7 linked regions of the Homo sapiens genome follow. The protein of the gene in region 6 interacts with the protein of the main gene of each other region in a pairwise test. Each region holds a gene or a part of one and is shown on either strand. Other genes may lie near its edges. The genes, in order: DIP2A, PHYHIPL, FCHO2, SLC66A2, RTKN2, PACSIN1 and ANKRD24.

Evidence for each region.
Region 1: the proteins of PACSIN1 (region 6) and DIP2A interact in a two-hybrid assay, tested with the Homo sapiens proteins (one large-scale study listed by IntAct).
Region 2: the proteins of PACSIN1 (region 6) and PHYHIPL interact in a two-hybrid assay, tested with the Homo sapiens proteins (one large-scale study listed by IntAct).
Region 3: the proteins of PACSIN1 (region 6) and FCHO2 interact in a two-hybrid assay, tested with the Homo sapiens proteins (one large-scale study listed by IntAct).
Region 4: the proteins of PACSIN1 (region 6) and SLC66A2 interact in a two-hybrid assay, tested with the Homo sapiens proteins (one large-scale study listed by IntAct).
Region 5: the proteins of PACSIN1 (region 6) and RTKN2 interact in a two-hybrid assay, tested with the Homo sapiens proteins (one large-scale study listed by BioGRID and IntAct).
Region 7: the proteins of PACSIN1 (region 6) and ANKRD24 interact in a two-hybrid assay, tested with the Homo sapiens proteins (2 studies listed by BioGRID and IntAct).

The regions. Positions count from the first base shown.
Region 1 is NC_000021.9:46,465,391-46,468,890, reverse strand, and holds part of DIP2A (disco-interacting protein 2 homolog A), read right to left. Parts: intron 1-3,500. UniProt on the Homo sapiens protein: Catalyzes the de novo synthesis of acetyl-CoA in vitro. Promotes acetylation of CTTN, possibly by providing the acetyl donor, ensuring correct dendritic spine morphology and synaptic transmission.
Region 2 is NC_000010.11:59,245,457-59,248,270, reverse strand, and holds the end of PHYHIPL (phytanoyl-CoA hydroxylase-interacting protein-like), read right to left. Parts: coding exon 2,680-2,814; 3' UTR 658-2,679; coding exon of another isoform or gene 534-657; 3' UTR 501-533; downstream 1-500. Other genes in the region: protein FAM13C, read left to right, coding at 534-657. UniProt on the Homo sapiens protein: May play a role in the development of the central system.
Region 3 is NC_000005.10:73,085,041-73,088,031, reverse strand, and holds part of FCHO2 (F-BAR domain only protein 2), read right to left. Parts: intron 444-2,991; coding exon 279-443; intron 1-278. UniProt on the Homo sapiens protein: Functions in an early step of clathrin-mediated endocytosis. Has both a membrane binding/bending activity and the ability to recruit proteins essential to the formation of functional clathrin-coated pits.
Region 4 is NC_000018.10:79,904,287-79,906,653, reverse strand, and holds part of SLC66A2 (solute carrier family 66 member 2), read left to right. Parts: intron 1-2,367.
Region 5 is NC_000010.11:62,195,845-62,199,344, forward strand, and holds part of RTKN2 (rhotekin-2), read right to left. Parts: intron 2,600-3,500; coding exon 2,064-2,599; 3' UTR 1-2,063. UniProt on the Homo sapiens protein: May play an important role in lymphopoiesis.
Region 6 is NC_000006.12:34,469,076-34,472,575, forward strand, and holds part of PACSIN1 (protein kinase C and casein kinase substrate in neurons protein 1), read left to right. Parts: intron 1-3,500. UniProt on the Homo sapiens protein: Plays a role in the reorganization of the microtubule cytoskeleton via its interaction with MAPT; this decreases microtubule stability and inhibits MAPT-induced microtubule polymerization.
Region 7 is NC_000019.10:4,217,189-4,220,688, reverse strand, and holds part of ANKRD24 (ankyrin repeat domain-containing protein 24), read right to left. Parts: coding exon 2,526-3,500; intron 1,099-2,525; coding exon 931-1,098; intron 1-930. UniProt on the Homo sapiens protein: Component of the stereocilia rootlet in hair cells of inner ear.

The sequences.
Region 1 (3,500 bases), on a different chromosome or scaffold from region 6:
GATATTAAAATTGAAATCACTGATATTTCTTTTTTTAAATCGACATGATTAACCTATAAGAACTCGTGCATATTTAATATATAAATTTTGATGAATTTAAAGGTAAGTATATCCCTGTGAAACCATCACCATAAACATAAACATAAACATCATCTCTAAAAGTTTCTTCCTTTCCTGTTTGTGATAAGAACATTTAACATGAGCTCTACTCTCTTAACAAATTTTTAAATATACAATACAGTATTGTTAACTATATGCACTATGCTGTACAGCAGCTCTCTAGCAGTTACTCATCCTGTATAACTGAAACTATATACCCTTTGATCAACACCTTCCAGATTCTCCCACCACCCCAGTCTCTGGCAACCACCATTCTACTCTCTGCTTCTATGAGTCTGACTATTTTAAATTTCTGACACAAGTGGGCTTGTGTAGGATTTGTTCTGGCGCCGATTTTCTCTCTTTTTTTTTTTTTTTTAGACAGGGTATCATGGAGTGCAGTGGTGCAATTTCAGGTCACTGCAGCCTCCACCTCCCAGGTTCAAGCGGTTCTCCCTGCCTCAGCCATCAGAGTAGCTGGGATTATAGGCGTGCACCACCACACCCAGCTTTTTTTTTTTTTTTTTTTTGAGACAGTCTCACTGTCACCCAGGCTGGAGTGCAGTGGCACAATCTCAGCTCACTGCAGCCTCCGGCTCCTGGGTTCAAGAGATTCTCCTGCCTCAGTCTCCCGAGTAGCTGGGATTATAGGTACTTGCCCCCATGCCAGGCTAATTTTTTTTTTTATTTAGTAGAGGCGGAGTTTCACCATGTTGCCCAGGCTGGTCTCAAACTCCTGGCCTCAAGTGATCCGTCTACCTCGGCCTCCCAAACTGCTGGGATTACAGGCATGAGCCACTGCACCCAGCCCTAATTTTCATATTTTTTAGCAGAGATGGGGTTTCACCATGTCACTCAGGCTGATCCCAAACTCCTGAGTTCAAACGATCCAACCTCCTCAGCCATCCTCTTCGACCTCCCAAAGTGCTGGGATTATAGGTGTGAGCCACTGGGCCCAGCTGGCATTGATATTTTTAAAGAAACTTAGAAATCAAAATTTTGTACAAAGACACTTGTACTGGGATAATTTACTATGAAAAAAAAAACAAACAAAACCTAAAGAGGGTATTCCCGAAACATGAATAATAAATTTTGTTAGTGCAACAGACAAGCAACTAGTCAGTAAGTGTAACTTTTAAAGATTTTCAAACATGTTTTATAAATTTAAATGCCTGATTGTCCTTACATACACAAACTGAAATAATTATTAAACTAGGCAATAGCTTTAAAATGTTACAAAAAATATAAAGAAATAGATGATGACATCCATGTCTTTCAGCTACTATGTTCTAGTTATTCAAGAGACTGAGGCAAGAAGATCATTTGAACCCAGGAGTTAAAGGCAGCAGTGAGCTATCCTCACACCACTGCACTCCCAACTGGGCAACAGAGCGAGACACTATCTTAAAAAACAAACAAACAAACAAACAAACAAAACTAATACTGTGAAATTTTTTAAATATTTAACTCATTTAAATTTTTTTTTTTTTTTTTTTGAGACGGAGTCTCGCTCTGTAGCCCAGGCTGGAGTGCAGCGGTGCGATATCGGCTCACTGCAACCTCCGCCTCCCAGGTTCACGCCATTCTCCTGCCTCAGCCTCCCGAGCAGCTGGGACTACAGGCACCCACCACCACGCCCGGCTGATTTTTTGTATTTTTAGTAGAGACAGGATTTCGCTGTGTTAGCCAGGATGGTCTCGACCTCCTGACCTCGTGATCCGCCCGCCTCGACTTCCCAAAGTGCTGGGATTACAGGCGTGAGCCACCGCGCCCGGCCTAACTCATTTAAAATTTTTAATAATAAACTGACTAGATATTAAGGTAAATAATATTTTTTACTAAAAATAAAAGATTTCTGAAAACAAAAACATTTAGTAAGAAGAGGTATTCTTTTACATTTTTGCAAGTTGCTTTAACTCTGGCTTCAGAGAAGACAATATGGATTCTCATACCTGCTCCTGTATCCAATCTGTTGTACTGTGTGGTTTTTTTGGTTGAAGTCTATGAATCAAATCCTTTTTCAGAGAGACATGCAGTTGGAAAAAGGTGGGGTGTCTCAGCAGCCTTTTCAGATCACTGTGGACATTCTTCCTTGATACAACACCAAAACCAGGCAAGGGGGAGTCTCTTAAAAAAAAAAAGTTGTGGCCGGGAGTGGTGGCTCAGGCCTGTAATCCCAGCACTTTAGGAGATCAATGCGGGCGGATCACGAGGTCAGGAGTTCGAGACCAGCCTGACCAACACGTGAAACCCAATCTCTACTAAAAATACAAAAATTAGCCAGGCATGGTGGCAGGCACCTGTAATCCCAGCTACTCAGGAGGCTGAGGTAGGAGAATCACTTCAACCTGGGAGGCAGAGGTTGCAGTGAGCTGAGATCGCGCCACTGCACTCCAGCCTGGGAGACAGAGCAAGACTCCATCTCAAAAAAAAAAAAAAAAAAAAAAAAGTTATAATGTAGAATCTATAACTCTTATCAGTGAACTTTTCATATCACTACATTAAAATCCATTGGTCTATCTTTTGAATGAATCTTTTACCCATGCACTATGACTTTGTAACGTGGTGCAATGGTGAGCTGGAAAATATTAGTTCACAAAATTATGTGGATCTTCCAAATGCTGACACATTTAATTATATAATATCAAATACTCATTCATTATATTGTCACCAATCTCATCAAAGAAGTCGTTAACTATTGAGAAACTGTCAAGCTCACTGTAGCAGATAAATTTTTTCAAAATTTTGATTTTTGCTTGAAAGCACAAATATTATCATTGGTCATAAATTGTCAGTTATTTCCTCTCATTTATTTTCCAGAAAACGTCCACCAAATACCCAAGTCTCAATAACTGCAGATTGTCTGCTACCCACTTTTTCAAGCAAAAATGGCATTTCACAATAAAAGCAGCTAGTTCGCTTTGCAACTCAAACTACACAATTGCTGTTTCTCAAAACAGGCACTGTACCTCTTTGTGCAGCAAAAGCAATTCATGTACTTCCCATTTCCTCATGAAAAGACAAAAGGCCAATTTTTTTTTTTAATTTTTACTGCTTCATCAGGGTCTGTTTAAGTGAAAGCAGCCCTTTTTGTTTTTTTAAAACTGCAAGTGGAGAGGTAGCGAATAATATAATGACTATCAGTGACACTTGGAGTCCCTGCCTCAATTTACGTTAAAGTGCCCAGCAGTTTTCCCTATTACTGCTTTTGGACCATCAGTACAAGTGTCAACACAGTGAAAACAGAAATGGCATCTTAGTATCATTATAAAAATAGTCTCCCTCTGCCTCCTGGGTTTGAGCGATTCTCCTGCCTCAGCCTCCCACGTAGCTGGGATTACAGGCACGTGCCACCATGACCAGCTAATTTTTTTTTTGTTATATTTAGTAGCAACGGGGTT
Region 2 (2,814 bases), on a different chromosome or scaffold from region 6:
GAGATAGGTATTATAATTACAAGAAAATCTGGAAACGTTTCAAGTTTGTAAGACAGACCCTAAATGCTTTTCTTGTTACCATAGGTTTATGTTATTTTTATAATGAAATTCCTGTAGTATTTTCAGGTTAATATTTTTAACAACTGTATTAGGGCTGATCATTTTGTACAGCTGTAGGGGTGTGGCAAATAATGGAAGAATGACTGGACAAAGAATGCCTTGAAAGTTCTGTTTCTTGTTTGTTTGCTTCTCCTTAGATCTTTTCACTGACCCCTTTGTTGTAAGTCTAAGCACTAGACCACATATTTGCAAAACACTTATGACATTCAAGTTTTCAAAGGTTACTATTATTTAGAAACTTAGTAACACATGGAAGAAGGAGTGAATGAAGGTGAAAGGGAAGGAAAAGAAGACATGATGCAAAAACCAAGTGGAGGCCGTTACAGTATACTTTCTCATGTATGAATTATAAAAGAATGTTTAAATAATGACTTGATTCATTGTGAACTAACAAATGTATTTTTGTTTTGCAGAAGTCCACAAAAGGAAGATAGGATACCAATGGCAGATGAGTATTATGAATATAAGCACATAAAAGCCAAACTGAGACTATTAGAGGTCCTCATCAGCAAGCAAGATGTGGCCAAAACTATTTGAGGTTCAGGAAATGTTATGATCACTTTCACCCATGATATAAAGTAAAGTTTATTTTCCTCTGCCATCCTTGCTAAGTAGTTTTGACACAATGAAAATGGAAGCACTTTAGTGGTAGTATTAGCTGTTTTTAAGAAGGAATAGCAAGTTTAATTATATACAAGGAGAAGGGATTTAAACGGGGGGAAGAATACAACAGGTAGCCATATAATTGGGAAAAAATTCAGTGTCCTCCATGCCAAGCAGAAAACTCATAGTCAATACAAGTATTTTTAAAAATGTCTAATATTTTATCAAATCTAAATAACATAGCTAGGACACTTGTTAGGGAAAGTTTATTTAGTATCCAAAGACTGTTTATGTTGATGTATGGAAAAGAGCATGATTTTAAAAAATCAATCATAGGAGGAAAAGAAATTCGCTTTTCAAGTAGGAAGGAATACAGCTAGCAAGAAAGCAATTTATTTGAAACTTCTAATGGATTTTTGAGTGATAAAACATTTACTACCTTGTCCTTTAAGTCTGCTAGGCTCTCAGTACCCTAAAATAAACTAGATTGTGTTGCTATTTTTTTCTTTCTCTATAAAAATAACACATTATTTTATCCGTTATTTGAAATTTTACATTTCTGGTTACCAAAGTTCATTCTGATAGCATGTACTTTGTGAATTATTATCTTTGTCTATAACTGACAGATGTTTATATTAAAATAAAATATTGTATTAAAAATTTAAAATAGGTATTTTGGATAGATATGTGTCTGTAGTATATAATCTAATGTGTCCATAGTATTATTGCTAATCTTTTGGTTTACTATAAGATGATATAACTATTTTTTCATTGGGAATATACATTTTTCTTAATGTTCCAACATCTATACTTTGTAAAGTCAAAACATTTCCCATGAGCTGTAGTTATTCATCCTTCTGTACAAAATGAAAAGTTTGGAAATTGTTTGCCCTGATACCTTGAAAAAGAAGCCAGAATATTTATTTGCTTCATCAACTTCAGTGTATATCATTTTGTGTTATTTTATACGAAAACATGTTTATTATTTTCATTTTTGTAAAAGGAAGTAAAAGGTCAACATTTTCTCTCATGTACCAACCTTGTTTGTATTTCTATTTTCTGTAATGTTTAAGTATGATGTTGAAGAAATTCACATTCTCTTATAGTTTGGATGGGAAGACTATTGACTATTTCAGAAACAGACTTATTTCAGAGGCTTATTGTTTTCTCTGTATTTACCTAATATTTTATAACTTTTATGAATCAGAATAATGTCCTTCATAAATTTGTTTAATTGAAGTCATCTACTTCTAACAGGACAGATACACAACTATTTGAGGTTTACAAATTACATCTTTGATAAGGGAAATGGTTTCGTGACATGTACACAGTTGCTATTAAAATGTAACTCTATATATTCTATATGATTGTAAATATTTTATACAACAATACAAATAAAATATTTTTCTATTATATTTATTATGTTGAAACACAGTAGTTGTTTCCTGTTAGCTAATATAAATAACATAAATAACACTGTCAAACAAGAAGTTGGAAGTGCTGACAATTCTAGGCTTCAAGATTTAACTCATGCTGCAATTACACCCTTTCATGCGGTTTGGAGTTATCCCAATATTTGTTCAGTAGATTAAAATGAATGCATATTTAAACACCATTTATAAGCCATTATTGTGTACTTTGCTAAAGCAGTCTATATAACTGTTTTGTTATGTTTGGCATAAAGGAAACATAAAAACATTGCAGCATCTAGGCAATAAAGTGTCAAAAGGAGAACTTAACTTAGGGTATTTCATCATTGAAAGTAGTGGGAGGGGTAGGGAATAGGAAAACACTAAAATGGTTCTGAATGAAATTTGGAAAGTGGTAGTTGTTTGTTTTGGTGACAGTGGCATGTGCATGCTTCAGTGGAAAACATCTGGTGATAAAAATGGACAACAGAGGACCAATGCTCCTAAGGGAGGAAAAGGGGCTGAGTAAGAATAAGAAAAGTGGGCATTAACGTCCAACACTGATATTACAGGTTTTGCAGCTGGGATCTTTCTTTGCATTTGCAGTAGACAAACTCATGAGCTGATGACCAGTGATTTCTGCCACGGTGCCCACAGAAAGATCCACAGGGTCAGTGTAAAT
Region 3 (2,991 bases), on a different chromosome or scaffold from region 6:
TCAAATGCACTCTAAGGACATTTTCCACTGTGGTTACCAATACAAAACTCTAGTTCCCATCTGCTATTTACAGTACATTAGAATCAGATAACAGGTGTTCAGCTATACTGACCGTAAGAACTCTCTCCCAGGTGTGTCTCTACCTGGCACCTTGTACCAAGGGTTAAAGAAAAAATTTCCATGTCTTTAGATTATAAATTGCTTGACAGTTTTTTAATAACTGTTAGAATACAAATGTTTCCCATGTACATTAAAAAGTTTGAAATCTCCTAACTTACCAGTAGCAAACCGCTTCTTTATTAAGGAAAGCCTATAGCCAGTGCCCACAAGTTCGAAATCTACTCCTGAAAGGGTACTTCCCTCGCTGAGGAATTGTACTGCAAGTGTCGTGGGTTTACTAGGTCCTTCTGAAAGATCAAATTTTGCTCGGAGGGACCCAGAACCTACAAAGAAAAGAATAAAGCACTTACACAGGGTAAAATACATTTCAAACAAAATAGAATCAAATGAGCAAGTAAGCTAAACTACATCAGTCCTGTGCTACATTCATTAGATGTGCACAGTAAACAAACTATTATCCTGTTTCCAAATCTCATATTTTTTAGTGAATATCAATTTTCATTAAGTAAATAACCCATGCTTTTCTTTGACTCAATACTAATCTTCAGAGATGTTAACTACTGGACTCCTATGCTATATGCATGTTGAGGCGAGTCAAAAGAGAAGAAGGAAGTAACTGAGGACAGCCCAGAGAAAAACCCTAGGAGGGATATAGGTGGCATAAAGTTAAAAAAGAAATGACTACTGAGTAGTAGAAGAAGTAAAGATGGAAAGGTAACTACGGTTGGGAAGAGTTGTATAACATTGCTATTTTCTATTCACTTTTCTTTTTAAAGTTTTACTGGTCTAACATAATGCCAAGTAGGTATTTCTGAGGTGTTTTGTTTCTAGTATCATCACCATTTATTCAGTATACTTCAGTCTAATGGAATGGCAGGAACAGTAAACCAATAATTATAATGAATATTATAAATGCTGTAAAGGAGCTCTGAGGAGCTACAGGCACAAAAGCACCTATCTCAGCTGAAAATTATAAATGGTGGTGGGGATGATGGTGTGTATTTTAGGCAGAAGTTACCAAAGATACAGAGACAGAGCATGATGCATTTAACGAAATAGCATCTATATCAGATTAGCAGGAGAACAGGATACAGGTAGAGGGGAGTGGCAGATGAGACTAGAGTGGTAGCATGGGCCAGGCCATGGTAAGAAATTCATGATGTAACCATGGGAAGTCACCAAAGATAAGGAAGACAAGAACATTTCAGATTAGTGTCTCAAAAGGGAAGAGAAGCACAAGATGCAAGGTTGGGAGACCAACTGCAAGTCAAAACAGTTTAGGACTCTAGATGATAGGAAAGGGGGATCTGAACTAGGGCTAATAAAAAGGAAAGATATTAAGAAAGTTATTTGAAAGATATTTAGGAGTTGGAATCAAGAAATGAGAAAGGAGGAGTCTAGGAGGGTTCCCAGGTTTCTGGATAGAGCAAATGGACAGAAATGCTAGGTACTAGCAGTAAGATCCTGTGATCCCCTGCACAGAAGCTTAACACTACACAGAGAAATGGAGAATAGGATGTCACAACATTGATCCAACTTGTATTATTATGCCTGGAGGCATAGATCAGTAGTGGAGATGAACTGCTGCCTTATTCTTAATTACTATCCAGGCCCTCAAACTTTTACAATTCTTGATAACCAATTTGGTTGTGCAAAAGTTCTACCATAGACCAAGAGCAACAACCTTGACAATCACCTTAGAAATATTTCCTGTCCCTCTTCTGAGTACACAGTCAGCAACAGAAAACAGATTTCTATTTTACAGAATTTTTTGTGTTTTTTTTTTTTGAGACAGAGTCTCTCACTCTGTTGCCTAGGCTGGAGTGCAGTGGCACGATCTTGGCTCACTGCAACCTCCGCCTCCTGGGTTCAAGCGATTCTCCTGCCTCAGCCTCCTGAGTATCTGGGATTACAGGCGCACACCACCATGCCTGGCTAATTCTGTATTTTTAGTAGAGACAGGGTTTCACCATATTGGCCAGGCTGGTCTTGAATTCCTGACCTCATGATCCACCCGCCTCAGCCTCCCAAAGTGCTGGGATTTCAGGTGTGAGCCACCGTGCCCAGCCTATTTTACAGCATTCTTATTTATTTATTTATTTATTTATTTATTTATTTATTTATTTATTTATTTTTTGAGACAGAGTCTCCCTCTAAGGCCCAAGCTGGAATACAGTGGTGCAATCTTGGCTCACTGAAACCTCTGCCTCCCAGGTTCAAGCTAGACTCGTGCCTCAGCCTCCTGAGTAACTGGGACTACAGGCACGTGCCACCACACTTGGTTAATTTTTGTATTTTTAGTAGAGGCAGGGTTTTGCCACATTGTCTAGGCTGGTCTCCAACTCCTGGCCTCAAGTGATCCACCTGCCTCAGCCTCCCAAAGTGCTGGGATTGCAGGAATGAGCCACCATGCCTGGCCTTGGATATTCTTTTCAAAGGCTTGACTAACCACATCAAAAACCACATTTATAAGATTTTTCCATTTCCTCACAGAAACACCTGATACCTGAATAGCAGAGGGAAACTTAAAATCTGGTTAGAAAATTTGTATCTCATTTTTTTATTTTTTGAGACGGAGTCTCTGCGCCAGGCTGGAGGGCAGTGGTGCGATGTTGGCTCACTGCAACCTCCACCTCCCGTGTTCAAACAATTCTCCTGCCTCAGCCTCCCGAGTAGCTGACACTACAGGCACGTGCCACTACATCCAGCTAATTTTTGTATTTTTAGTAGAGACAGGGTTTCACCATGTTGGCCAGGATGGTCTCGATCTCTTGACCTCACGATCTACCTGCCTTGGCCTCCCAAAGTGCTGGGATTACAGGCATGAGCCACTGCACCCAGCCTGTGTCTTATTTTTGAGAGAACAAATTT
Region 4 (2,367 bases), on a different chromosome or scaffold from region 6:
CATTCACCAAACAGACCATATCCTGGGTCATGAGAATTTTTTTAAAAAAGAACTGAAATTGTGCAAAGTATTTTCTATGAATATAATATAATTAAGCTAGAAATTAATAGCAGAAATAGATCTTAAGTCTCCAAAGGTTTAGAAGCTAAACAACACACCTTTAAACAATCTGTTAAAGAGGATATTGCAAAGCAAACTATTGAAAATATTTTGAACTGAAAAATACACCACCATATCAAAATTTGTGGGATGCAACTAAAGCAATGCTTAGAGTTAAATGTGTAGTATTAAATACTGATTTTAGAAAAAAGTTCTCAAATCATCAATCTAAGCTTAAGAAACTATAAAATGAAATGCAAAGGAACCCCAAGCCAGCAGAAGGAAGGAAATAACGGAGCTAACACCAAGCAACAAAAATGAAAACAAAACTGCAGCAAACATAAAAAACCAAACTGAAAGCTGGTTCTTTGGAACAAATCATTAACTGATAAACCAGTGGCCAGAATGACAAGAAAGCACAGATCCCCAGTATTTGGTATGGAAGAGGATATTCTGTAGACCCCACAGGCATCAAAAGAGTACAATGAACAACCTCATGCCCATACATTTGAAAATTTGGATAAAATGGACCAATTCCTTTAACCCAAGAAGAAATAGCTTGAGTATCTCTTAAGTAGATAACCCGTATCTATGAAGGAAGTTGTAGATGCATAATCTAAAGTCTGAAAAGGCTCTTTTTCCAGAGAAGCCAGAAATTGTGTCTGTGTGTGGGTGTGTGTGTGTTTACAGAGTTACCAACTGATTAGAAACAAAGTGTTGAAACTCAAGTGTGAGCTGATGCTGCATGCCAAGTAAAGCCACGGGCTTTGTGTGGGAAGTAGCCTGTCCCTGAAGCAGGCGTGGTGGTGGCTCTCAGGCCTTGAGTCTTGTTCGCAAGCACATCCTGGGAAATCTCAGCCGTGTGTGAGGGTCAGGCGAGCTCTGTTTCCCATCCTGGTGTGAGGGGTCAACCGGAAGCTGCGTGGGGCGAAGGTGACCGGTGGCGGGGTCACCGCGCAATGCTCGGGCGCCTGCTGTGTGCATGGCTAGCGCAGGAAAGGCAGGCGCCTTTGCACCGGGGCTGTGGTCCCAGGCCCGGAGCCCCACCCCAAGTCAGCTGTGCAGCCCTGCCTGGGCCTAAAGCAGGCAGGGGGGAATTCCGAAGCCTGGGCTGACTGCTGGGGTGTGTGAGAGGCCGAGGGGCCTGCACCACCTTCCCCCGGTGCTACCCAGGCACCACCCTGTCTTTTTGTCTGTGGAAGAGACTGGATTTTGTGGAGCTGGAGCTGCATCCAGGGGAGGACACATCCCAGAGAATAAAAAATGGGAGGAAAATGCCCTCTGTGGGTCAGGGCCTTATAATTTAGCTAAACCGACCCAAGTGGAAACAGTCCCAAAGCCTCCTGGTTTTTCCCAGTGGGTGTAATGATAAAGCCGGATTTATGTTCTCAGAGGCCAACAAGATGCTCTAGAGCCGAGCACTGTGGGCTTGGGAGAGAGGAGGGGGTGCAGATGCCGGCTGTCTCCTGCGGGTTCCTAGCTCCAGCCCTGAACACACCCGGCCATGGCTGTGCCTGAAGACTCTCACACAGGGCGGCTACGGCACCCAGGTGCCCACCCTGGCTTATGAGCGGGACGGACGCCCCAGGGTGGGGGAGGGCTGTGTCCTGTCCTTTCTGTCCAGGCAGCGCTCCCCACCCAGGCTCTGCCTCTGGCTTCAGGAGCTGTGGAAGGGTCAGCGGCCGCTGATTTAAACATTTCACACGGGAAAGTGCAGCAGCACTCATGTTCACTGCTAGGCAAGCCAGGGCATGAACACAGCGGTGGGGGAAGCGTGTTCGGACTGGGATGGTGGGTGGCGGCTGCTCCCTGTTCACTCCAGGAAAGGAAGGTTTGCATCTATCACCAGGGAGGGAGGCCGGCAGAGACCCAAAAGCAGCTGCTCTGCTCCACTTGGCTGTGTGCCTGGGGGCACAGATCTGCGTCCTCAGCACCCTCCCAGGCCCGGCCCCTCCCAGAATTGCCACCGCGCACCAGGGGCCCTGACGTCAGCTGCTCGCCCTGCTGTCCCCTGTAGCCTCGAGCTGGTCTCACTGTTCTTGGGCTTGCAGAGCCCCAGCCAGGCGGCAGCTCTTGCGGCCACAGAGAAGTCAAGGGTGGGGGTTGCATGGGACAGGTGGGGTCAGGGTGTGTCCTTTGGCCCCCTGGGGTGTCCCTGACCCCTGGGTCACCCTGTAGACTGGGTGTCCCCTCAACCCCCTGGGTGCCCCCTGAGCCCCAGGCCTCCCCGCCGACTGCCTGGGGGTCCCCTTAGCCCCCTGGGTGCCC
Region 5 (3,500 bases), on a different chromosome or scaffold from region 6:
AATGGTTCTAGGTAAAAAGGGCTTCAGTCCTGTTTCAAAGTTCTACTCTGAGGGCACAACTGCTAGGTAATTTCTGTATGAATACTTTCTTTTTCTTATACACCTTAAGTCCTTCCTGCTGTTATCTGCATGAGGAAAAATGACAAGAATATAATCTGGAAGTTTTAATACTGATTTGTAATAAAGGAAGGCATCAACTAGGAAAAAAAAAAGAATGCTTAGATGCCAGCTTCAAAACAATTTTCCCTGCAGCATCTTCTAGCTCAATAATTTAGTGGCAATGACAGTCACAAATGCTGTCAAAAACAGCAATGAAGTTTTAAAAAATAACCCAAAAATTCAAACAATAATATCCTTTAGATTTTTAATGTCATTTATTGAAATGGCAATCATAACAGAAACTTATGAGAGCCTTCTAGTTAGAAAAAATAAGTTTACTTTTTAAGGTTTCCATACATGTGATGATCTCTACATGCTATCAAGCAGGCATATAGTACTTTCTTCTCACCAAAAACTCTGTCTGTCCTGATGTTACCAGTCACAAGAAACCTTTTGTTATCATTACTCCCTCAAGATTCAATTCTTACTAGGAGTCCTGGGCAAACACAAAAGTGTCCTGGCAGTTACATCATTCTCTATAAATGGAAAAGACCCCGCTATCTGAAAATAATGAAAGGCTCCATTTAAATTAATGTGGTTTTTTGGTCAAGTGTTCATTTTGTTTTGTAATAATGTAGTTCTGATCCAAATAGAGTTCTTGCTAGCTTTAAAAAGATCTCAAGAGATTATACACAGGGCAGCAATTTAATTCTTAAATTTTTATTTCTTGCAATGACATTTAGGGTTCAGTGTGATTTGAGATTTTTAGTGCTGTTGCTGACACCTTATGGAAACTGTTTTATTTGGAAATTCTAATTAGATTTTTAAAACTGTTCTGCTCTTGTTTACAAAAAGCATTATTATAAAAAATGGATTTTTTGTTCCTTTAAGGTATTTTTCTGCTATTTATTCCTCACTTGACTTTATAATCCTGTTTGGGTCACTATGATTAGTTGCTATGGAAATTACCTCCTATGGAAATGATTCCAATGTCACTGTTGTAAGAATATGACATTTAATGAAAAATACCACTAGCAGACATCAACTCTTACTAGGAAAAGGAAATCTAATTAAAATTTTAAAAAAGAATTCTGAAAATTATTTACCATGGCCAACTTTTCTGATATTTTTGAATCTCTCATCTTCTTTTTAAATAAGTATTAAATGAATTTTAAGGTGTTGATCAGCTACTCACTTCCCTAAATTCCAAAGTCACAATGGAAATTAGCACCACACACAGAAAATTGAATGTAAAGAGCATTTCATCTACCATTTCTCTAAACTAGTAAGTGTTATGCTTCATTTATGAAAGTTAATGTCAACAGTATTTCAGGGCTCATCAAGGAAACAAGTTTGAATAGCACATTACAAATTCCCTTTAAAGATGAAGAATTTAATATTCTAAAATTTATCCCAGGAATTTAAAAGGTCAGGCCTATAAACTAGTGAGTTAAACAATAGATGAGAGCCAGTGAACCATTAGATGAGAATTCCAGAATGCTAAGAAAATTTTCTTGGGTGGATTCTATAATTTGTGGTTTGAATAAAACCTTTGAAACATTCCATTAGTATTAAAATTCTCACAATGAGAATATGGTTCATATTTAACACATTTTAAATTACTAGACAGTCTCTCCCCAAAAGAAATTTTAATGCTTTATTCTGCCTAGGGCTTATTCACTGCCTGGTACTAATTCAGGAATAAATTAACCCTTCCAACAATTAGGATATTGTCTAGAAACTGCCTCTTGCACACTGCTGGAGAAATCACTTACATTCTGCAAATCAGGAGTAAAAGAGAAATCCACTTCTTCATTATAAAATGTTTTTCTATACCTAATAGCTTATTAATTATTGGTATAAATCACTATATTTACCTATATAATTACACATTATTCTATAATGCCTCTGAATTAAGCTTCACAGTTATAGATTTTGTTAAATGTTTTATCATTAAGAGTTTTCTATACTTGTGCCTGCAGCCATGATCTAGGGTCCAGAATGTCTTTGATGGATTTCTGCCTTGGAGCTGGCACTGGCTTGGCTTCAAAATTGGTTTTAGTGTCTGTGTGCTCACCATCACTTAATCTATTTCTCCTGGCAGGCAGAAGTTTTCGAGGAGCAGCCATTGGTTTCTGTAAGTGATGCATTAGAGTTGATAGTTTGGTATCCAAAGACGATGTCTGAGATACACTTGTTTTTCCCCAGTTGTCCTTAACCAATTGATCTGTGTTACTCTGTGATTTTAAGCTGAATGGAAGTTTATCAGAAGGAGGAAGGGGAGCTTGTCTCTTTTTCCCTTTTTCATCATGTAATGGCTCACTTGCAGGATACAGTACCTTTTTCTGGATGACCATTTGATGGTTACCATCAAAGAGTGTGGCCCAAGGAGGTGGTAAGGATTCTTCATGCTGACCAATAAGGAACTGCCCATTTGTCTCTTCAATTTTTTTTTGTATTATATCCGTTAAACTTTCAAGTTTCATAGGTGAATCAATGCCTATAATAATTTTAAGAAAAAAAAACATGAAAAAATTCAAAAGCAGTATGTACTTTATCTAAATAAGTTCTTTTCCAAACTAGTATGCTATATACAATGGTCATCAAAGACTATGATAAGGAAAACGTTCACTTGTAAAAATAACCACACCATCAGAACTAAAAAGATCATGCGCTGCACTAATCATACATTATATATGTAAACATACACATAATACATAGTATATAAAACATATATAACATACATATAATTTACATAATACATACACATGTATAAATATATTCCTATATAAATTAGCAAAATCCATCTTTCAAAGAAGTGGAGTTATATGAGTTTTCTAAAAAATTCTATAGATTAAGTATTTATGAGATAACATTTCCTGGATTTAAAACCTTATTCTGACTGCTAGGTAAGAGATTTCCTTTTTTACAAAAGCTAGATATATATTAGGATGACTGCATTTGGATGAGTATTCTTTCCTGTAGACCAGCAAAGTCTCTGTTAAAAGGGAAAATGCTTAAAACCAAAAACCCAGGAAAACAGAGTAAAGCCCTCATACCACTTTGGTAATAAGGGTGGTGGGTGAAACTTTCCTTGGCAAAAATAAAAGAACAGAGATAAATCTCTATTAAATAAATTACTGGTATTTTAAAATGTGTGAACCCAAATGTATCATTTTTAACCTGACATTTTAAAGTGAATGTAAGTACAGGTACATTAGTGGCAAATTAAACAGAATTTAGACTGACTTGCACTTGTTCACAACATTATTTACTGAGGCAACAGCACAAAAATAAACACCCTTCAAGGTGTGGGAAATTGAATATTAGTGGGTCTAGAAATTTAAAATTTTCCAAAGTATTAAACTTAACCAATTTCTTTTTTCTGGCTAGAGATGAAA
Region 6 (3,500 bases):
GAAGGACAGAAGGGACAGGAGAGGACATGAGGGGTGGGGGCATTCACTGATTTGGGGGGCCCTCCCTGGGGAACCAGGTGGAGGGGTTGGGGGACGAGTGGGTATACCAGATAAGAAGGATGCTGCTTGGTTTGGTTTTACATTTTTCTTAAAGAAAAATAGCTTTTATTATTTTTTCTTATTACCAAAGTAATATAGGTTTGCTGTGGGCAATTTAGAATGTACTAGAAAGCCGAATGAAGGAAGCCCATTAGCCACATCAGACCCACCCACCATGGGCACTTCGTAACTGATTTCCAGCCAGGGGCAGGATGGACCGGAGGGGAGGTCTGGGCTGGGGACTTGGCGGGCAGGTCAGGGTCCCAGGAAGTAGCCGTGAGGATTGGCAGGCAGGTAGAGGAGGGGTCCCGGAGCTTCACTGTGGAAAGCAGGGAAGGAAGTGGGATTGGATGAAGGGGAAGTGGACTCTGATGCAGCCCAACAGGCAACAGGGTGCCCTGGGGCTAGAGTGGCCTTTCAGGTCATGTCCATTTGCCTGTGAGAGTCAGGCCCTAGACCCCAGCATCCTGCGCCCATCAGGCACAGGGTTTGGGTGTGCCTTCCTGCAGGTGGCTCTGTGGTAGCAGCAGTCCCTGAAGCATCTGCCCACTGAGGTCGCCTGCTGACAGCACCCACCCCCTGGGGCAACAGGTAGTGTTCACCACCAGGAAAGATGGGTTGGGAGGAACCCAGAGGTGGGCTGAAGGGACAAGATCAACCGGAGCCTGGCCTCAGCTGGCTCTGGGGAGACAGGACCTCTAATGCCAGGGAAGTTGCTGGTGCCGTTTCCAGAAAAGGAGCGTGTCTGTGGGGAGCAATTTAGAATGTACTGGAAAGCCAAATGAAGAAAACCTATTAGCCACTTCAGACCCACCTGCTGGGGACACTTTGTGGCTGGTTTCCAGCCAGGGGCAGGGTGGCCTGGAGGGGAGGGCTGGGCTGGAGACTGGGGTCGGGGGCTCCCCTCCACCCTCCCCTGGGTGCTGTCTCTGAAGACCTCAACCTTGGGTGTGAGGGGCTGCAGGATACCTGAAAACTGGGAGGGCAGGGGAGGCCTTGGCTATTATTATTATTATTATTATTTTTGAGACGGAGTCTCACTCTGTTACCCAGGCTGGAGTGCAGTGGCGCGATCTTGGCTCATTGCAACCTCCACCTCCGGGTTCAAGCAATTCTCTGCCTCAGCCTCCTGAGTAGCTGGGATTACAGGCGCCCACCACCACGCCCGGCTAATTTTTGTATTTTTAGTAAAGACAGGGTTTCACTATCTTGGCCAGGCTGGTCTTGAACTCCTGACCTCGTGATCCACCCGCCTCGGCCTCCCAAAGTGCTGGGATTACAGGTGTGAGCCACCGCACCTGGCCTACCTTGGCTATTATTTTAAAATCACTCGATATTGTTATAATTATTTTCTTTTTAGAGGCAGGGTCTTGCTCTGTCACCCAGGCTGGAGTGAGTGACACCATCATAGCTCACTGCAGCCTCGACCTCCCGGGCCCAAGGGATCCTCCCATTCAGCCTCCTGAGTAGCTGAGTGCTACCATGCCTGGCTAATTTTTCAATTTTATTGTAGAGATGGGGTCTTACTGTGTTGCCCAGGCTAAAAATAACTTGATATTAAAATGCTGGGTAGGGGCTAGGGTAGTCTTTCTATATAAAATGCAGCATACTCAGGTAATTTTAAATTTCAGAAAAACAACAAATGTGTTTTTGTTGTTTTTTAGTCTAAGTATGTCCCAAACATTGCATAGGACATATTTTTAATAAAAAACTGTATTTGTCATTTATCTGAAATTCAGATTTAACTAGGTGTCCTGAATTTTTATTTTATTTTATTTATTTATTTTTGAGATGGAGTTTTGCTCTTGTCGCCCAGGCTTGAGTGCAAGGCTGCGATCTAGGCTCACTGCAACCTCCGCCTCCCAGGTTCAAGTGATTCTCCTGCCTCAGCCTCCTGAGTAGCTGAGATTACAGGTGCCGGCCACCACACCCAGCTAATTTTTCTGTATTTTTAGTAGAGATGGGGTTTCGCCATGTTGGCCAGGCTGGTCTCAAACTCCTGACCTCAAGTGATCTGCCCGCCTCAGCCTCCCAAAGTGCTGGGATTACAGGCATGAGCCACCGCGCCTGGCCCTGAATTTTTATTGACTAAATGTGGCCACTGTAGGCTGGGGTAGGGAGGAGTGGAGAGAGAGGGTGAGAATTTTCTGTTCTTGAGTGTGGGGGAAGAATCAATAGATACTTGTTTGAAGTTGACAGTTTTAAAACATTAACACATCCATTTTTAGAAACAGGTGAGATGTTCCAAATTTCCCATCTGTTAACTTTCTATACTGGCTAGAGAGTAGTCCCTTATTTGTGGATTTTGGCTCCTTAGTGCTGCTGAGAAATAATAAAACAATAGTTTTCTCATTTATGCAGGTGGGACAAAGGGAGATGTGGTGATCAAGGGTGGAATCACTAAATAGGGGTAATCCATTTGAGAAATAAAAGTCCTCCTAAGAAAGCTCTCATTTGGCGGAGGGCGTGGGAAACTAGAACTCTCACGTCAGTCGGGGAGCATACGTTAGCACTGTGTTTTTGGCAACAGTGGTCACAGTTTTGACTTGGCAATTCCACTTTTTGGGACTTATTCCACAGGTACACTCTGAGCAGGGTGCAAAGATTAGCTGGGCAGAGACAGTCAGTGTAGCAAAGCTAGATGTCTGTCAGGAGGACCAGTGACAAAGTCAAGACCTCTTTGTACGCTGTGATTTCGGGCAGTTGTTCGTTCTGGGATTTAATCAATGGATCTCTGAATGTCGCTGCCTGCCAGGCACCACTTTAGGTGCTTGGGGACACTGAGACAAGATGGGGCGGAGCTTATTACCAGTGTGGAAAGATGGTCATCACGTACTGATAAGTTAAAGCAAGTGGCTTTGTAGAACAATGTGTGTAGTCAAGGTCAGGAGTTCGAGACCAACCTGGCCAATATGGTGAAACCCCTGTCTCTACTAAAAATACAAAAATTACCTGGGTGTGGTGAAGGACGCCTGTAGTCCCAGCTACTCAGGAGGCTGAGGCAGGAGAATCGCTTGAGCCCAGGAGGCGGAGGTTGAAGTGAGCCGAGATCGGGCCACTGCACTCCAGCCTGGGAGACAGAGCCAGACTCTGTCTCAAAAAAAAAAAAAAAAAAAAAAAGAACAATGTGTGTAGTATGATACAATTTTTAAAGTACATGTACATATGTTCTTCTCTGTTCATATTTACATAACAATGTGTAGAAGGCTGCATACCTGATTGTGATTAGAGCTTGCCTCTGGGCTGAGGCCTATCGCAGGGATCTGGAGGGAGAATGCGTCCTCTTTATTTCAGCCATTCTGTGCTGTTTGCATTTTATAAACAAATATCATTACTCATGAAGAAAACAATTAAAACTGCACTTGATGATACTGGGAATTTTTTTCTTAGAAACCTAAAAA
Region 7 (3,500 bases), on a different chromosome or scaffold from region 6:
CAGCTACTCGGGAGGCTGAGGCAGGAGAATGGCGTGAACCCGGGAGGCAGAGTTTACAGTGAGCCAAGATCACGCCACTGCACTCCAGTCTGGGTGACAGAGCAAGACTCTGCCTCAGAAAAAAACAAAACAACAATAAAAAAAGGTAATGTGTGAAAAATTCCCAATCTAACACCTGGAGGCTGTTGTTATCATCATTAGTATTGTTTAGGAACGAAACGTGGGAACGTGGGTACAAACCCAGCTGAAAGACTGCATGGCTGTGTGACCTTAGGCAAGTGACTTCACCTCTCTGTGCTTCTGTTTCCTCAAATGGGGATAATAAAAGCCCCTATCCTGTGAGAACTGGATGTGACTAAATGCATCCAGTCCACAGGGCCTGGCATGCAGTAAGCACTCAATAAATGTAACTGTGGAGACAGACGCAGTGGCTCACGCCTGTAACCCCAGCCCTTTTGGGGGCTGAGGCAGGCGGATCACTTGAGCTCAGGAGTTCGAGACCAGCCTGGCCAACGTGACGAAACCCCATCTCTACTAAAAATATAAAAAATTAGCTGGGTGTGGTGTCGCATGCCTGTAATCCCAGCTGCTCGGGAGGCTGAGGCACGAGAATTGCTTGAACCCAGAGGTTGCAGTGAGCCGAGATCATGCCACTGCACTCCAGCCTGGGCGACAGAGCGAGACTCCGTCTCAAGTAAAAAAATAAAATAAATGTAACTGTGGTTATAATTGGTACCTGGAACAGCAGCCTGTGTGTGTCTGACTTGTCAGAGGCTGTAACCAGGTCCCCTTCCGTTTCTGAGCCTCAGTTTCCCTTCTGGAAAATGGGTTGATTTTCCAAGGCCCTTGCAGTGAGGACCTTCGTAGATTGGCCCCAACCTTTGCTGAGTGGATGCCTCCCTGACTGAGTGTGGGAGAGGGGGCACCCACCTTCTTGTCCTTCTCCTTGGCCTTGTCCAGAGCCTCCTGGGCCCGGCTCTGGGCCTGGCGAGCCCTTTCCGCCTCGGTCCGTAGCCCCCGTAGCTGCTGCTCTGCTGTGGCCAGCTGTGCCTCGGCTGCGTGTCGCTCACTCTTCATGAACAGGGCCTCACGCTGCACCTGTGGCCCAAGCCCACGCATGACTCTCAGGACACTAAGACTCCAATGATGCTAGACCCCAGAATTCATATGATCCTTCTACTTTGTTCTTTTGTTTTTGGATTTTTTTTAAGACAGGGTCTTGCTCTGTTGCTCCGGACCTGCACTCCTGGCTGGAGTGCGGTGGTGCGATCATGGCTCACTGTAGCCTCAATCTTTCAGGCTTAAGTGATCCTCCCACCTCGGCCTTCCAAGTAGCTGGGACCACAGGTGCCACCATGCCTGGCTACTATTTGCTTGTTTTTGTTTTGTTTTTGTTTTTTTTTGAGACAGAGTCTTGCTCTGTCGCCTAGGCTGGAGTGCAGTGGTGTAATCTCAGCTCACTGCAACCTCCACTTCCCGGGTTCAAGCGATTCTCCTGCCTCAGCCTCCCCAGTAGCTGGGATTACAGGCACGTGCCACAATGCCAACCTAATTTTTGTATTTTTAGTAGAGACGGGGTTTCACGATGTTGTCCAGGCTGGTCTCGAACTTGTGACCTCAGGTGATCCACTCACCTTGGCCTCCCAAAGTGCTGGGATTACAGGCGTGAGCCACGGTGCCCGGCCATGAGCTCAGGTGTTTGAGACCAGCGTGGGCAACATGGCAAAACCCTGTCTTTACAAAAAATTAAAAAGTTAGACGAGCATGGTGGTGCACACCTGTGGTACCAGCTACTTGGGAGGCTGAGGTGGGAGGATTACTTGAGCCCAGGAGGTGGAGGTTGCAGTGAGCTATGATTGTGCCACTGCACTCCAGCCTGGGTGACTGGGTGACTTTTCAGACAGAGCCACACCCTGTCTGAAAAAAAAAAAAAAAGAAAGGAAGGGAAGGGGAAGGGGGGAGGGAAGGGGGATGAAGAAAGAAAGGAAAGAGAGAGGAAGGAAGGAGAAATAAAGAGAAAGAAAGAGAGAAAACACAAGTGGAAAATTCCAAGAGGTCAGGATGGCTGCAGGGTCAAATGTCTGTTCAAGGCCAGGTGCGGAGGCTGATGCCCATAATCCCAGCACTTTGAGAGGCTGAGGTGGGTGGATCACCTGAGGTCAGGAGTTCAAGACCAGCCTGGCCAACACGGTGAACTCCCATCTCTACTAAAAATACAAAAGTTAGCTGGGCGTGGGGGCAGGTGCCTGTAATTCCAGCTACTCCGGAGGCTGAGGCAGGAGAATCACTTGAACCGGGAAAGAGGAGGTTGCAGTGAGCTGAGATCACACCACTACACTCCAGCCTGGGCGACACGAGTGAAACTCCATCTCAAAAATAAATAAATAAATAAATAAATAAATAAAATAAAGTAGGTCTGTTCAAGTAAAACTGATGGGTTCAAAACACCTCAAGGCTGCGGGGCTAAAACAGGCCGCCACGTGGCCAATGGGGGTGGGGCCCGGGTGGTGACCAGCCCTGCTCACCTGGAAGACCTCTGCGCTGGTCTTCTCATGCCGCCGTCCCAGCTCCTCCAGCTGCCCCTCCAGCTGGGCCACGTTGGCCTGCAGGGTGCCCACGATGCGTTCGTGCTCCGAGAGCGCCACGCTGCACACACGCTCCCGCTCCAGCTCCGCGCGCAGCCGGGCGGCCTCCTTGCCCGTGGCCACCACCTCCTGCTCCAGACTGGCTGCCCGGCCCCGCAGCTCCAGGGCCTCCTCCTGCAGCCGGCGGTGCTCAGAGGCCGGCACCACGGACTGGCGGAGGGCCTCGGAGGCCTCCCGCAGCTCGGCCAGGCCCTGCCGCGCCTCCTCGCAGGCCGCAGGCAGCTCAGCCACTCGGGCCTCAGCGGCGTCCCGTGCCCGGCCCAGTTCCGCGGCCGCCGTGCGCTGCTGCTCCCCCGTGGCCCTGGCCGTGGCCAGCTGCTCCCGCAGAACCTCCAGCTCCCGGCTCTGCTCCAGCCGCGCCTCCTCCCGCTGGGCCAGCTCGGCCCGCAGGCCCCGCGCCTCCTCCTCCGCCAGCAGCCGGCTGGCCCGAGCCTCATCCAGGCAGGCCGAGGCCGCCTCCAGCTCCCGCAGGCGGGAGTCCCGGTCTCGGAGGTCCTCCCGGGCCTGCTCCAGGGCCGCCCGCAGCTGTGTGGTGTCACCGCCACCGCCCCCGCTGGCCCCGCTGCCCTCGGCCTCGCGGACACGCTCTCGCAGCCGGCCTGCCTCGGCCTCCGCGGCCTCGCACTTCCCCAGGGCCGCCTCCAGCTCCGCAGCTGCCTCCCGCTCCCGCTGCCGGAGAGCCTCCTCCAAGCCACGGATCCTGGTCTCCAGCTCTACTTGAAGCTTTTCCGAGGCCTCTGCGGCACCAGGATGTAGGATGGGGCCAGCAGAGATCCCCGGGACCGTGGCCTCTACCCCTGGGTTCTCCACACCTGTGGCACTGACTCCTGTGGATTCCATCCCTGTGGCCCTAGA